2 linked regions of the Homo sapiens genome follow. The protein of the gene in region 1 interacts with the protein of each later gene in a biochemical or structural test. Each region holds a gene or a part of one and is shown in the gene's direction. Other genes may lie near its edges.

What was found.
Region 2: the proteins of SHQ1 (region 1) and DKC1 are reported together in a solved structure, tested with the Homo sapiens proteins (2 studies listed by BioGRID, with this or other methods).

What each region holds. Positions count from the first base shown.
Region 1 is NC_000003.12:72,788,977-72,796,803, reverse strand, and holds part of SHQ1 (protein SHQ1 homolog), read left to right. Parts: intron 1-3,767; coding exon 3,768-3,888; intron 3,889-7,827. UniProt on the Homo sapiens protein: Required for the quantitative accumulation of H/ACA ribonucleoproteins (RNPs), including telomerase, probably through the stabilization of DKC1, from the time of its synthesis until its association with NOP10, NHP2, and NAF1 at the nascent H/ACA RNA.
Region 2 is NC_000023.11:154,765,864-154,773,690, forward strand, and holds part of DKC1 (H/ACA ribonucleoprotein complex subunit DKC1), read left to right. Parts: intron 1-43; coding exon 44-135; intron 136-352; coding exon 353-537; exon of another isoform or gene 538-1,133; coding exon 1,134-1,198; intron 1,199-1,392; coding exon 1,393-1,519; intron 1,520-2,438; coding exon 2,439-2,569; exon of another isoform or gene 2,570-2,939; intron 2,940-3,303; coding exon 3,304-3,447; intron 3,448-4,895; coding exon 4,896-5,016; intron 5,017-7,267; coding exon 7,268-7,386; intron 7,387-7,827.

The sequences.
Region 1 (7,827 bases):
CTGTTGCTCAGGCTGGAGTGCAGTGGTGTGATCTCTGCTCACTGCAACGTCCACCTCCTGGGTTCAAGCGATTCTCCTGCCTCAGCCTCCCGAGTAGCAGGGATTACAGACGTATGCCACCATGCCCGACTAATTTTTTTATTGTTGTAGAGATGGGGTTTCACCATGTTGACCAGGCTGGTCTCGGACTCCTGACCTCAGGTGATCTGCCCACCTCGGCTTTCCAAAGTGCTGGGATTAGAGGCATGAGCCACCATGCCCTGCCTGTTATTTGACATTTCTTTTCATTGTTATTCTTATTTTTTTTGTGATAGCTGGAAGATTTAAATTTGCCTGTGGCCTTTAGCAAGAGGGCAGCCTCACTTTAGGCATGTCTGGTAAGTGAAGCTGTGTATAATTTTATCAGGTAATGGCTGCTGTGGATCCTCATTAAATATGTGACCTTAACTCCATACCTTTTTACATTATGATCTCGGGAGTAGGGTCCTTTATTCCTACTGCCCACACCTAAGTTTAGAGACGTTCTCACTCAGTCTGTCCAAGTGCATTCTTCTCTTCCTCCTTGTTAGTGTCTGATTTCTACCAAACTCATCTGCTTATTCTCCTTTTTTTCCTTACATGAACTCTTTGCTCTAGCCAAATGGTTTTCTCCAAATCCTGCATTTTCTTTTTCTCTTTCTTTTTTTTTTTTTTTTTTTTTTTGAGATGGAGTCTCACTCTGTCACCTAGACTGGAGTGAGTGGCGCAATCTTGGCTCACTGCAACCTCTGCCTCCCCGGGTCCAGTGATTCTCCTGCCTCAGCCTCCCGAGTAGCTGGGACTACAGGCGTGCACTACCACGCCTGGCTCATTTTTGTATTTTTAGTAGAGATGGGGTTTCACCATGCTGGCCAAGCTGGTCTCGAACTTCTGACCTCGTAATCCGCCTGCCTTGGCCTCCCAAAGTGCTGGGATTACAGGCGTGAGCCACCACGCCTAGCCCCAATCCTGCATTTTCTGTTAACCTGTTTATATTAGTAAAGTGTGGGATCTTGAGAGAGAGTATTCTGGAGGTGTCACACAGCAGAGAAGCTTATTCAAGTTACAAGAGAATAGTTCGTTTTTCCAGTAAAGACTTACGATTGACATTTAAAACTTTTAGTAGTTCTAAAACTAACTCCTTCCCTCTGCACCCTCCTTCCTCTAAAAAGAGAGAGAGAAGGAAAGCAAGAAAGAAATTAGTTGGCCTATGCTTACTGTGACATTTGTCTTCTCTGTGGCAATTAAAACTTCAAAACATTCTTACAGGTCAGTTGTTCCTTGATTCTTTGGGTAACATGGCTAGTGTGGCAAACATGGTTTCATCATGCCTGCAAATTTTGATTATATTTCCTCCTCCTTTCATCAAACCCTGCTCTCAACATTACCTAGTTTGTAATTAAAATAGGCTTGTGCTGGGGTGATCCACACTAATCATTTGACATAGTTAACCTGTGCCACTTTGATAAGCCATAGCACTGACCTTGCCTTAACCAAATGAACTTGACATCTTGTAGCTTTAGGCCTTCTAAGTGTTAGTTTCTCTTCACAGTCAGTCTAGCAGTGGAGCTTTCATTGACATTCTTCATTCATTCTTTATTGTATCTGCATATGAGGAAGCCACAAAGTTAATATTTTTTAAAAAGGTATGGACTCTGTTTTCAGACTTACTACCTACTTAGGGGTTAAAGTCAGTAATAAGTCCTTGAGTAATAAAAACGTTGTGATATAGACTGGATGAGGCAAGAACATACAGGTAGCATGGCACAGTGGGTAGCCTCTGGAGCCATTAAGATTGGAATTTAGATCTTGGTCCCTCAACTCAGTGGCCCTGTATCTTACCCATCCTGAAGCCTCCAGTTTTCCTTCTGGGAATTGAACAGGAGAGGTTATGGGGAGGACTTTCCCCATTTTGAGTTTCCTTTCCACTTCTTGGCAGCATTATAGTAAAGGACCGTGAAGACTAGGAAAGTCAGCCCAGAACTTCCCGAAGGAATGAAGACTGGAGCTAGACCTTGATAGTGGGCTAGGTCACATGGAGAAGGGAAAAAGGCATGGAAACAAGTCTGTAGAAAGAGCATTGAGAACATATGCAGGGAAGAGACTCCATGAAAGCAGTGCATTAAAAAATGTGTGTTTGAAGGGGTAGAGTCTGGAATCTGAAAGATGGGAAAGAGGATTCTTAAAATCGAGGCATGAGATGAGAATATGAGTGAACATAGGAGCTCAGGCAATGGCATAGAAAGGGCAGATACAAGGAGCATCTCCAAGGAAAAATCATCAGGATTTGACGGGTGAGACCGTAGAATGAAAGAAATTTTCAAGGTTTAAGCTGGGTGATTACTGTGTCTATCATGTATTCATTCATTCTTAGAACACTTAAATGGAAAACCTGCTGTTGCGGTGTTCTGTTCTAGGTATTGGGGATTAACCACTAAATAAAACAGAAGCCCCTGCTCTTTTGAAACTTACTTTCTAGTGTTAATTATGTTAAAAAATTTAGTGTCAGCAATTTTAGGATCTTGAGATGTCATCATCTAGCTCATGATTCTTTTATGATCTAAAAGTTAAATGGGAAATGTCAATGAAAGTGCATCCAGTATCTTCATGAACTCAGTATACAGTATTTCCGCGTTTCAGAACTGTAAAGATAAGAATGAAACTGTTAAACTGAAAATACTGAATTTCACAGATCAAAGAAAATGGTACTACTCTAGATGTAGAATTAATAGTTCACCTTATAATTAATAAATTTCAGGAAATATCATGAAGTTTGGAACACCTAGGGAATTGCTGAGTTGTAAAAGGCTCCTTTTGTAGACTTTGGTTGGGTTAAAACTAGGTTCATTTAAAAACCAGGAGGAAGTAGTTAGGTTGAACAAGGCTTTAATACTTGATGGCTTTTGTTCATGTGAGTTTTGTCAGCTTATTTCTGAAGTAGTGCTATGATGTTTTAGTGTTCAGTTTTCTTCAATTCTTTAAGGTAAAATAATTTGTTATTAGTAGATAACTCCTTGACAGAAAATGTTGACATAAGAAATAAAGAAGTTTGAAATTTAGAATACAGTTTTCCATGTTATGTTGAAAGCTTGAATTGGAAGAACATTATCTAATAAAAATTATGATGCATTTAGATATTCATTTGGTTTAGAAAACTTTCCTGCCTTTCATTTAATTGACCTAGTTGTATTTCATAGCATTTTAATGATAACCACAACTAGTCAGCTGTAACAACAGAATATAAAGATTATATGTAATTCTTTTTTTTTTTTTTTTTTCGAGATGGAGTCTTTCTCTGTCGCCCAGGCTGGAGTGCAGTGGCGCGATCTTGGCTCACGGCAAGCTCCACCTCCCCAGTTCACGCCGTTCTCCTGCCTCAGCCTCCCGAGTAGCTGGGACTATAGGTGCCTGTCACCACGCCTGGCTAATTTTTTGTATTTTTAGTAGAGACAGGGTTTCACCGTGTTAGCCAGGATGGTCTCGATCTCCTGACCTCGTGATCTGCCCGCCTCGGCCTCCCAAAGTGCTGGAATTACAGGTGTGAGCCACTGTGCCTGGCCAAAGATTGTATGTAATTCTTAAGGAAATCAGTAAAGGGGTTTGGACCTAATAGGACTCATAAATTTTTTTGCATTTAAAAATGTTCTTAAGAAATGATCAGGATTCTGAGCTGCTTTAGATATATTACCTCTCAGGGTCTGAATTTCTTTTTCTTAAGGATAATTTTATGTTTTTTCAATTTTCTTTAGGTAAAAGTGCAGTTTTAAAGTGTCTCCTGGATATTCACAAAATTTTTCAGGAAAATGACCCAGCGTACATACTGAATGATCTCTACATCTCAGACTACTGTGTGTGGATTCAGAAAGTCAAGTAAGTTTTCATAGAGTTACTTACGAATTTTTAGATGTTCACATTGCTGAAATACCTATTTACCCAGGAGGAAGAAAACGAAATAACCTGAGGAGTAAGTTGTGTTTTTTTTTTTTTTTTTTTTTTTTTTTGAGATGGAGGTTTGCCCTTGTCACCCAGGCTGGAGTGCATTGGTGTGATCTCAGCTACTGCAACCTCCGTCTCCCAAGTTCAAGTGATTCTTGTGCCTCTGCCTCCCGAGTAGCTGGGATTACAGGCGTGTGCCACCACGCCTAGCTAATTTTTTATTTTTAGTAGAGACGGGGTTTCACCACATTGACCAGGCTGGTCTTGAACTCCTGACCTCAGGTGATCCACCCACCTCGGCCTCCCAGAGTGCTGGGATTACAGGTGTGAGCCACTGTGCCTGGCCAGGAATAAGTTTTAATGAGAAGGAAACCCATAGACCTACCAAACACTAAAAAGCAACTGGATTAACATGGGGAGCTTGGTGAATTTGCTTAGGGAAGGAGGTACACAGATGGTAAAAAGTTAATTTTATTAGAAAAAATTGGTATTGGTATGTCCTGGAAAACAGGTATTAAAACAGTTGTGATATTGATTGCCTTGCTATTGACTGTCCAGTATGAAATCTCAAGACTGGGTATCTGAACTTGTATCTGTATTTCACTTACAGTAGAGTGTGAGTGTGTGTAGATGTATGTGCATTCATGTTTGTGTGTGCAAACATTTTAGTATGCAAACTGCATCAGTTGAATCCAGATGAGAGCTCTGCATTTATTGGCTAGCCACTGGCTTACCACCTGCAGAGCCTAATAGCATGATTCTTGATAATGCATGTATGGAAGGGTCTGAACACTCACAAATGAGCTCCAGCACTTGGTATATAAAAATTTTTAAAAGTGTTTACCATTGCGTCAATCAAAGAAACATAGTAGATTAACGATTACATTTTAAAATGCAGTGAATTTTTATTTCGTGAAGTTCTGTAGATCTGATTCTTATTAGACATGACAAAATTCCATTTCAGTAGCAAGAGGCTATTAATTAAGAATCTATAAATGGGCCAGGCATGTTGGTTCATGCCTGTAATCCCAGCACTTTGGGAGGCTGAGGCAGGAGGATCGCTTGAGTTCAGGAGTTCAAGACCAGCCTGGGCAACATAGTGAGACCCTGTCTGTATTAAAAAAAAAACAAAACAAAAAACCTATAAAGGGAACTCTTAATTGGAATGACTCCTAGGTGCTATAGAAAATGATAGCTACAATGTCAATTGTGACTTAGAAGAAAAATAGTCTTGATATTTTTGCTACCGCCATGATTGATAAATAAATGCTTTAGTGTGGATTTTAATGTCTGTTTTGAATGAGCCATTATATGGGATTTATTTTTTATTTCTCTTCATGGGGGAGCAATTATATTGCAGAATGAAATATGAAAAAACTTGAGGCTATACCTGTTGTACAGAAAATGCTTAGGGATTGCTCAAGATAATGCCTAATAACATACAGCAGGTGGTGTCAGCATTTGTGTTGGAAATCTAGATTTCGCCAGATGGAAAATTGAATGTTTAACCCCTGAGGTCATAATGGCATGTCATCACTTCATTTGATCCTCCTGCTAATTGAGCTTATCAAATACCCTGCTGCCATTTCCTGTTGTTACTTTCATTTTCATAATAAAATTAAATGGGGATAGTCTATTTGTGTGGGTTTTGGTTTTTCTTTTTTTTAGGAATGATGATTTTGTAAACATGTAATGAATATTGAGGTATGTACCAGGATCTCATTTCTGTGAGTGCCTGTTTCTCTCTTTGTGATATTCTTTATTAGCTAGAGAGAAGTTTATTTTTCATTAAAGAAGAAAGATATAGGCTGCCAAGTAGATGTAGGGATTATCAGACCTTCCCTGAAAAAACTTTTTCTCTTGGTTTTATGTTGTGGGAAATGAAGTGAAATTCTTAGGTTCTTTGTAATTGTTGTGCTAATAGTACTTTTAAAAAATGGGATAATGTATTGGGGAGTGAGGTAGGAGAGAGAAACCAGCAGGAACTCTTCAAATTACTTTGCAAAAGTTGTTTTTTCAACTTTACCAATTTGAACATAACTTTCTTTTCCCTAAACAGGCGTGTTGCTTTCAGTTTGTATGTTAAATTTTAACTGTAGCCCAGCTATTTTTTTCTCTCTTTTGAAATAAAACATTTGTTTATCTAATTTTTATAAAAATTTCTAGTTTTATTCTTAATTTTACAAGCACAACATGATTGAGCTTTCTAGTATTTTCTTTACTGTGAACTTCTTAGGTCTAAATAATTCTACTGCAGTGTAGATCCATGATTTTCGTAAGGAATTTTTTCCTCACTTTTACCTTCTGGTTTATTTCTTCTACATATAGTTTATCAGTGAAATCTAGCACCTTATTTTTATGTTTGAAAAGAGCCATGTATTTTTCTTAGTTTAGTTTGATGTTTTTGATTATAATAATAAAAACTATGTAAGGTTTTGTTTGAAATACCAGGTAATTGCTAAATTCTGACTAGCACAAAAACAGCATTCCATTTTTACAGTCAGATATATGCTTTGGCAAAAACCTATTGAAACGTAGGTAGCAAAGTCATTCTTACATTGAATCGATGAAGTTATAACAACATCTATTGTTACTTCTGCTTTCGTACTAGGTTTCCCTATGTTATTTTTCCCTATGATATCTGTGTCTTGTAATGCATATTTGCAAAGCTGAGAAACTGAAGCTCCTGGCCTCTCATTCTGAGTTACAGATTTTACCAATTGTTTTTCTGAAAAGAACGCTCCCTACCACCCTTCACTATAAGCTTCACTGGAAGTTTTGAGTGTGGTGCTCACTACAGCAAATGTTCTGTGGTTGGCAGCCTTAGAAAGTGATTTGTTTGAGGTTATATGTCTTATAAGAGATAGGTCAGGTCTTCTGGTTCCAGATTTCATATTTTTCAAGATATGCCACTTATGCAACCAGTTGTCTCCACCCATACCATGTGGAAGAAAAAAGATAAAAGCCCTTTCTTCAGAGAGATTTTCCTATAGGAAAAGGAATGAATGAAACATCTGTCTTTCTCATGGATGTTCCCATAGCACTTGGTTGAGAGATCATTGGGCACCTCTCATGCCTGCCTTATATTGTAGGAATCTAGATGTGTATCTCTTTCCCCTCTAAAATGCTAAGGTCTATGTGAATAAGCACCTGTCTGGACCCATCACAGTTTGTGAGCACAATCAGTTTTACTCAAATTGAATGATACCTATTAGACCGGATTAAAGGAACGTTTTTCATTTTTGTTTTAAATGTAGCACTTTAAAAATATAAATCAATTCTAACTTATTTTTATTGGTATTTCAGCTACATATACAAGTTGCCCCATTCTTTGCTGGTGGGCTGCCATCAGTAGCAGTGATAGTTCTGACCCTCTGAAATTTAACAGTTCCATGGTATCCAACCCTTTGGCTTCCATGGGCCATACTGGAAGAATTGTCTTGGGCCACGCATAAAATACACTAACACTAATGATAGCATGGACCAAAAAAAAGATCCATGCATAATTTTTATGATATCCATCACTACAGATAAGCAAAAAAGTCCTTGCATTCAAATAGTTGGCACCTTTTTATATAAGGTGGGATAGAAAATAATGAACTGTAATACATTCCAGCTCTACTTCTCATTGACCGTATGACCTTAGCAAGTCACTTTGTCACTTAATCTAATTCAACCAATATTAGTATTTTGATATTTCCTGTATTTGTTTCCCAATGCATTTTTTAAATATGTAACAAGTTTATTTTTCTTTTTTTTTTTTTTTTTAGTGTTTATTGATCATTCTTGAGTGTTTCTCGGAGAGGGGGATTTGGCAGGGTCATAGGACAATAGTGGAGGGAAGGTCAGCAGATAAACATGTGAACAAAGGTC
Region 2 (7,827 bases), on another chromosome or scaffold:
CACGACATGGTATTTTGTTTTGTGTTGTGTCGTTGCTTTGTAGAATTTTGATAAGCTGAATGTAAGGACAACACACTATACACCTCTTGCATGTGGTTCAAATCCTCTGAAGAGAGAGATTGGGGACTATATCAGGTAAGTGTTGGGAGGAGGCACTGTGCAAACTTACTTTCTTTTGAAAATGCTTTCACATCAGCTATTCAGGAAGGCAGTGGCATGCCAGAATAGCTTTGTCTTGAATATATAACCTGTACCCGCAGTGAATTATTTTTCTTTTTAACTTTTCAGATTTGTTGTTTCACTGGAGCATTAAGAGTGGGTGATACATTAATTTTTTTTTTTTCCATTCCAGGACAGGTTTCATTAATCTTGACAAGCCCTCTAACCCCTCTTCCCATGAGGTGGTAGCCTGGATTCGACGGATACTTCGGGTGGAGAAGACAGGGCACAGTGGTACGCTGGATCCCAAGGTGACTGGTTGTTTAATCGTGTGCATAGAACGAGCCACTCGCTTGGTGAAGTCACAACAGAGTGCAGGTATGTGGGAGAGGGAGGGAAGGACTGGCTAGAGTGAAAAGCTTTCTGTATTTCCCTTCTATGTTTTGTCTGCTGGAAACTATTTCTTCATTAAGAAAAAAAAAAATCCTAAAGCAAGGATATTGTTTTGGTTTCTGTGTACGTTCTGTCCCCTGCCAGATCTTGGTGGTCCGCGCTTTTTGGAATTCCACATACTAAGCATGTATTCATCAAGCTGACTGGATCCATTTGTCCGGGTTCAGCTCTCAGCTTGTCACTCCAGGCTTCTCACTCTGTGCTACCGCTTCTGCCTAAAGTATCCTTCGTTCATTTTTATCTGAGAAAAGCCTGCTTATCTTGCAAGGCTTTTTCCACGCAGCTTCTACACTGAGTACTCCCAACTGTCCCTGTTAGTACATTGAATTCCCAGTGAGAAAGTGTCTTCATTCTTTCCCACATCATCACCATGAAATCTCTCTTAATGCAAATTTTATAGAAACACAAGGTCAAACTGCCGCTTTTCCTGCTGTGCAAAATGGGAGTGACTGAGCATATAAGAAATATGGAAAACAGAAAACTCAGTGGCCACACCTGACTACTCTTTTGTCATTTTTCAGGCAAAGAGTATGTGGGGATTGTCCGGCTGCACAATGCTATTGAAGGGGGGACCCAGCTTTCTAGGGTAAGTCTGCAATTGTAGGGAGGACACCCTTTGTTGACTTGGATCTCTGAGCCCCTAAACATCTGGAGATGGGTTAGCTGTCCTGACTGACTCCTTTTGTCCCCTTTTCAGTCGGCTGCTGCAGCCAGCCTGGACCAGTGACTGCACATGTACATTCTGATGAGGTGTTTGTTTTCATTTGTGTTTGTTCTTAGGCCCTAGAAACTCTGACAGGTGCCTTATTCCAGCGACCCCCACTTATTGCTGCAGTAAAGAGGCAGCTCCGAGTGAGGACCATCTACGAGAGCAAAATGATTGAATACGATCCTGAAAGAAGATTAGGTGAGTCATTAGGCCTGTGAGTGGGTATGAACACATTCTTCAGGATTCTGTTCTCTTATTAAAAGTAGATGCCCTTGAAGTTGAAGACTTTCTAAAACCTGCCCTACAGCTGGGATATTGTCTGTGGGCGATAGTTTTTGTTATCTTTTGTTGAAAAAGTGAACAGTGCCTAGTAAAGTGAGATGGCTTTTACACCTTTTATGATGACTGCTTCTGCTGGAGTTGAAATGTTTTCATTCTGCATTTGTGTAGTTCGGTGCTTTGTTCAAAGGTAAGTGTTTTCACCAAAGTATGTTTTGCATGTGTTTTTTATTTGTTGCAATTTTGACTGCTTAGAAGTTTCTGTTGTCAGAAGTAAATTTAAGACAATGCCAATTTTCCTCCCATCCATGAAACATACCATGCTGAATATACCTGCAACTTAAGTGTTAAAAATTCTGCTAATATCAGAATTACAGATCTTTTTTTTTTTTTTTTTTTTTTTTTGAGACGGAGTCTCGCTCTGTCGCCCAGGCTGGAGTGCGGTGGCATGATCTCGGCTCACTGCAAACTCTGTCTCCCGGGTTCACACCATTTTCCTGCCTCAGCCTCCCAAGTAGCTGGGACTATAGGCGCCCGCCATCATGCCCGGCTAATTTTTTGTACATTTAGTAGAGACGGGGTTTCACCATGTTAGCCAGGATGGTCTTGATCTCCTGACGTCGTGATCCACCCGCCTCTGCCTCCCAAAGTGCTGGAATTACAGGCGTGAGCCACCGTGCCTGGCCAGAATTACAGATCTTTACAGCAAATGCTTATATTTTAAGAAGTGTGTCTGTCACCTCTAGTCTTGGTGGCTCAGATGAAGGATAACTGCATTTCTCAACCAGTGATGTATTTACAGTAGGTGCTGCTTTTCTTTTGTGTGTGTGTATCTTAGGAATCTTTTGGGTGAGTTGTGAGGCTGGCACCTACATTCGGACATTATGTGTGCACCTTGGTTTGTTATTGGGAGTTGGTGGTCAGATGCAGGAGCTTCGGAGGGTTCGTTCTGGAGTCATGAGTGAAAAGGTATGTGTTACGGGGCTAGAAGTTTTAGAGCTGGTTCTTACCATCTGCCAGCCTTTGATGGCACTCCACTTGCTTCATGTCGTGGGAAAGATGCTTTCCAAAGTGTTGAGTTCAGTCCAGGGCAGCTTCCCTGTTCTGTTAATTAAACTTTGGGACATTAAAATGGGCTAAGGGAGATGATTGGGTAGAAAGTATTATTCTATTCATTTGCCTCCCAGCCTACAAAAATGCCTGCTTGGGGTCTAATACTTCAACGGTTAAAGATGCCTGGAAGAGGGCGCGGTGGCTCACGCCTGTAATCCCAGCACTTTGGGAGGCCGAGGCGGGTGGATCATGAGGTCAGGAGATCGAGACCATCCTGGCTAACAAGGTGAAACCCCGTCTCTACTAAAAATACAAAAAAAATTAGCCGGGCGCGGTGGCGGGCGCCTGTAGTCCCAGCTACTCGGGAGGCTGAGGCAGGAGAATGGCGTGAACCCGGGAAGCGGAGCTTGCAGTGAGCCGAGATTGCGCCACTGCAGTCCGCAGTCCCACCTGGGCGACAGAGCGAGACTCCGTCTCAAAAAAAAAAAAAAAAAAAAAAAAAAGATGCCTGGAAGAGCCAGGACTGAAGAGGCTGAAGACATAATGAGCTTGGACTAGTAAACAAGTGACATTCAGTTTTAGGAAGTTTGGGGTCTGATGGGCTGAGATACAAATAAACTGAATTATTTTCATACATGGCTGCTTTTCAGGACCACATGGTGACAATGCATGATGTGCTTGATGCTCAGTGGCTGTATGATAACCACAAGGATGAGAGTTACCTGCGGCGAGTTGTTTACCCTTTGGAAAAGCTGTTGACATCTCATAAACGGCTGGTTATGAAAGACAGTGCAGTAAGTTCCGGGTTAGGAGTTTATATTTGGAAAGAACGTACTCCAAAGATGAGGCTTGCTCTTTTTATTGTTTTCCTTGGGTTTTATTTTATTTTTTTCAAGTCCAAACCAAGTATATTAATTTAAAGTAAAAGTTTAATGGTAGGCATACTTAAAAATAAGGCACATTAGGCCAGGCACAGTGGCTGATGCCTATAATCCTAGCACTTTGGCAGGCTGAGGCAAGAGGATCACTTGAGTCCAGGAAGGAGTTTGAGACCAGCTTGAGCCCAGGAGATCAAGGCTGTGAGCTGTGTTTTTATGATGATCAGAGAGTTGGCCTTTTATAAATTAAAACATTGTCTTTTTCTCTAACTTGAGGGATAAAAATTTCTGGATATTTAAAATGTTTGTAGTTGGTAATTATTTATATTCAAATCTTGTATAGATGTTCACATTTTTTGTATGTGTATAGGCTGTAATAAATACTGAAAGATGGCACCATAATAGTTGAAAAAACTCAGTCACAAAACAGTGGACAACATAAATGTGATGTCCTCTCCTTATCAAACCATTGGCTTCTGGGTGAATGTAAAGGGAGGGGAGAATGTGATCAAAAGAGGTCTAGGTGAGTGGAGATGGTATGAGGCAGATGGGTGCATTGGGTACCATTGAACCTCTGGAGAGGTAGCCTTAACTTGTACCCACTGACCTATAAATTCTGCACCAAGACTTTTGTGTGATTGGTTCAACAGGGCTCAGTAATCTTGTTTTCAAGTTCTTTAAGAGCCTGTTATTGCCTGGATCTCCAGTAAATCTGTTCTTTCTCCTCATAAGGAGGAGAGAGGAGTAATTAAGGAATGCCAAGGCTATTTTTATGTTTCAAATGAAAATATGGACCACGTGCGGTGGCTCACACCCATAATCCCAGCACTTTGGGAGGCCGGGCCAGGCAAATTGCTTGAGCTCAGGAGTTTGAGACCAGCCTGGGCAATATGGTGAAACCCTGTCTCTATTAAAAATACAAAAATTAGCTGGGCGTGGTGGCACGTGCCTGTAATCCCAGCTCCTTGGGAGGCTGAGAATCACTTGAACTTGGGAGATGGAGGTTGCAGTGAGCCGAGAATGTGCCACTGCACTCCACCCTGGACAACAGAGGGAGGTTCTGCCTGAAAATTAAAAAAAAAAAAAAAAAAAAAAGAAAATACTTGTGAGTCTCTAGAACCTGAAAACCTGAAAGTCTTCTTTACTACTTTTGAGTCGTGTGTAATGTGCGGAGAGTGGTACCTATAGCACAGTGAGGTGGCTCTTCTGAGTACCACTCATGCCCCTTGCAGCTAGTGGGCTATAAGTGTCATCCCTGTTTCCTGGTGTCAGGCCCCACTCCCTTGTTGTCCTCCTTTACTCTGGTGTGGGAGTGGGGTGGAGGGCAGCAGCTGGGCCCCTTACACTTGGTGCCATCTCTGCAGGTAAATGCCATCTGCTATGGGGCCAAGATTATGCTTCCAGGTGTTCTTCGATATGAGGACGGCATTGAGGTCAATCAGGAGATTGTGGTTATCACCACCAAAGGAGAAGCAATCTGCATGGGTAAGAGGGGATGTTTATTTTTTAAATTCTAAATGTTTGTGGTTACATACTAGGTGTATATATTTATGGGGTTCATGAGATGTTTTGATACAGGCATGCAATACATAATAATCACATCATGGAGAATGGGGCATCCATCTTAAGCATTTATCCTTTGTGTTACAAACAATCCTATTTTACTGTTAGTTATTTATCACCTTAGTTATTTTAAAATATACACTTAAGTTATTATTGATTATAGTCACCCCGTTGTGCTATTAAATAGTCTCACTCTTCTTGTTCATTCTTTTGGTTTTTTGGTGGTGGTGTTTTTTTTTTTTTTTTTTTTTTGAGACAGTCTTGCTCTTTTCACCCAGACTGCAGTGCAGAGACGTGACCTCGGCTCACTGCAACTTCTGCTTCCCAGGTTCAAGCGATTCTCGTGCCTCAGCCTTCCGAGTAGCTAGGATTACAGGTGCACACCATGACACCTGGCTAATTTTTTGTATTTTTAGTAGAGACAGGGTTTTGTCATGTTGGTCAGGCTGGTCTCGAACTTCTGACCTCAGGTGATCTGCCCTCCCAAAGTGCTGGGATTACAGGTGTGAGCCACCATGCCGGGCCTGATTTTTTTTTTTTTTGTACCCATTAACCATCCCTACCTCCCTGCCAGCCCCCCACTACCCTCCCAGTCTCTGGTAACCATTCTTTTACTCTTCTCTGTCCATGAGTTCAATTGTTTCGATTCTTAGCTCCCACAAATAAGTGAGAACATGCAATGTTTGTCTTTCTGTGACTGGCCGATTACACTTAATATAACGATCTTCAGTTCCATCCATGTTGTTGGAAATGACAGGATCTCATTCTTTTTTAAGGCTGAATAGTAATCCATCGTGTATATGTACCACATTTTCTTTATCCATTTATCTGTCGATGGGCACTTCGGTTGCTTCCAAATCTTGGCTACTGTGATCTCTTTGATAACACTGATTTCCTTTATTTGGGGTATATACCCAGCAGTGGGATTGCTGGATCCTATGGTAGCTCAATTTAGTTTTTCGAGGAACCTCCAAACTGTTCTTCATAGTGGTTATACTAATTTACATTCCCATCAACAGTGTACAAAGGTTCCCTTTTCTCCACATCCTTGCCAGCACTTGTCATTGCCTGTCTTTTGGATATAAACCATTTTAACTGGAGTGAAATGATATTTCATTGTAGTTTTGATTTGCATTTCTCTCGTGATCAGCATTGAGCACTTTTTCATATGCCTGTTTGCCATTTATTTGTCTTCTTTTGAGAAGTGTCTGTTCAAATCTTTTGCCTGTTTTTTGATCAGATTATTAGATTTTTTTTCCTATAGTGCTGAGTTCCTTATATATTCTGGTTATTAATCCCTTGTCAGATGGGTAGTTTGCGGATATTTTCTCCCATTCTTATGCATATGGATATCTAGTTTTCCCAGCACCATTTATTGAAGAGACTGGTTTTTACCCAGTGTATGTTCTTGGCACCTTTGTCAAAAATGAGTTAAATGTAGGTGTGTGCATTTGTTTCTGGGTTCCTTATTCTGTTCCATTGGTTTATGTGCCTGTTTTTATGCCAGTACCATACTGTTTTGGTTACTGTAGCTCTATACTATAATTTGAAGTCAGGTAATGTGATTCCTCCAGGTTTGTTCTTTTTGCTTAGGATAGCTTTGGCTATTTTGAGTCTTTTGTGGTTCCATGTAAAGTACCAGTGTTTTTTAACTTGTGAAAGCTTAGCTACTGTTGGATTGTCTCTTAAGACTTTAAATGCTCTGCGCACCCTCTTAGTGAATGAACCTTAGAGCTATTCATTTAATGGGTCTAATTTGTACCAGAAGTAAGCATGTCATCAGGATTCCTTAGCTCTGTGAGCAGGCAAGGCAGCCACGGCTTATGGACAGCAGCAGAAAAGGAATCCTTAAAACTTCAAAGGTTCTGTGGCCCCAAAGGGAGTGTGCATGCCGTTCTTATAGACGTCTTGAGCTGCAAGCCTGTTATGTGTATCGTTAGGTGCTTTGGTTAGGTGTTTTTTAACTTCAGAAGTTTAACGTCATTTCAAAGGCCTCCTTCTCATAATGGAGTATTTCCTCCATATGCACATCCTGAGCAAAGGTAACCCCAATTAAAGTAGTAGCTCAGAGTTTTAAAAGTTTTAAAGTGGCATACAACAGTAGAATTGGGGCTCATCAATTATCAATTCTTTCACCCTTCAAATAATTCTTTTCTTTATTCAATGCCTGTAGCTATTGCATTAATGACCACAGCGGTCATCTCTACCTGCGACCATGGTATAGTAGCCAAGATCAAGAGAGTGATCATGGAGAGAGACACTTACCCTCGGAAGTGGGGTTTAGGTCCAAAGGTAAGTGGTACTGGGTTGCGTGCCCTGCCAGGTTCTTTTTTTTTTTTTTTTTTTTTTAAATTTATTTTTTTATTGATAATTCTTGGGTGTTTCTCACAGAGGGGGATTTGGCAGGGTCATGGGACAATAGTGGAGGGAAGGTCAGCAGATAAACAAGTGAACAAAGGTCTCTGGTTTTCCTAGGCAGAGGACCCTGCGGCCTTCCGCAGTGTCTGTGTCCCTGATTACTTGAGATTAGGGAGTGGTGATGACTCTTAAGGAGCATGCTGCCTTCAAGCATCTGTTTAACAAAGCACATCTTGCACCGCCCTTAATCCATTTAACCCTGAGTGGACACAGCACATGTTTCAGAGAGCACAGGGTTGGGGGTAAGGTCACAGATCAACAGGATCCCAAGGCAGAAGAGTTTTTCTTAGTGCAGAACAAAATGAAAAGTCTCCC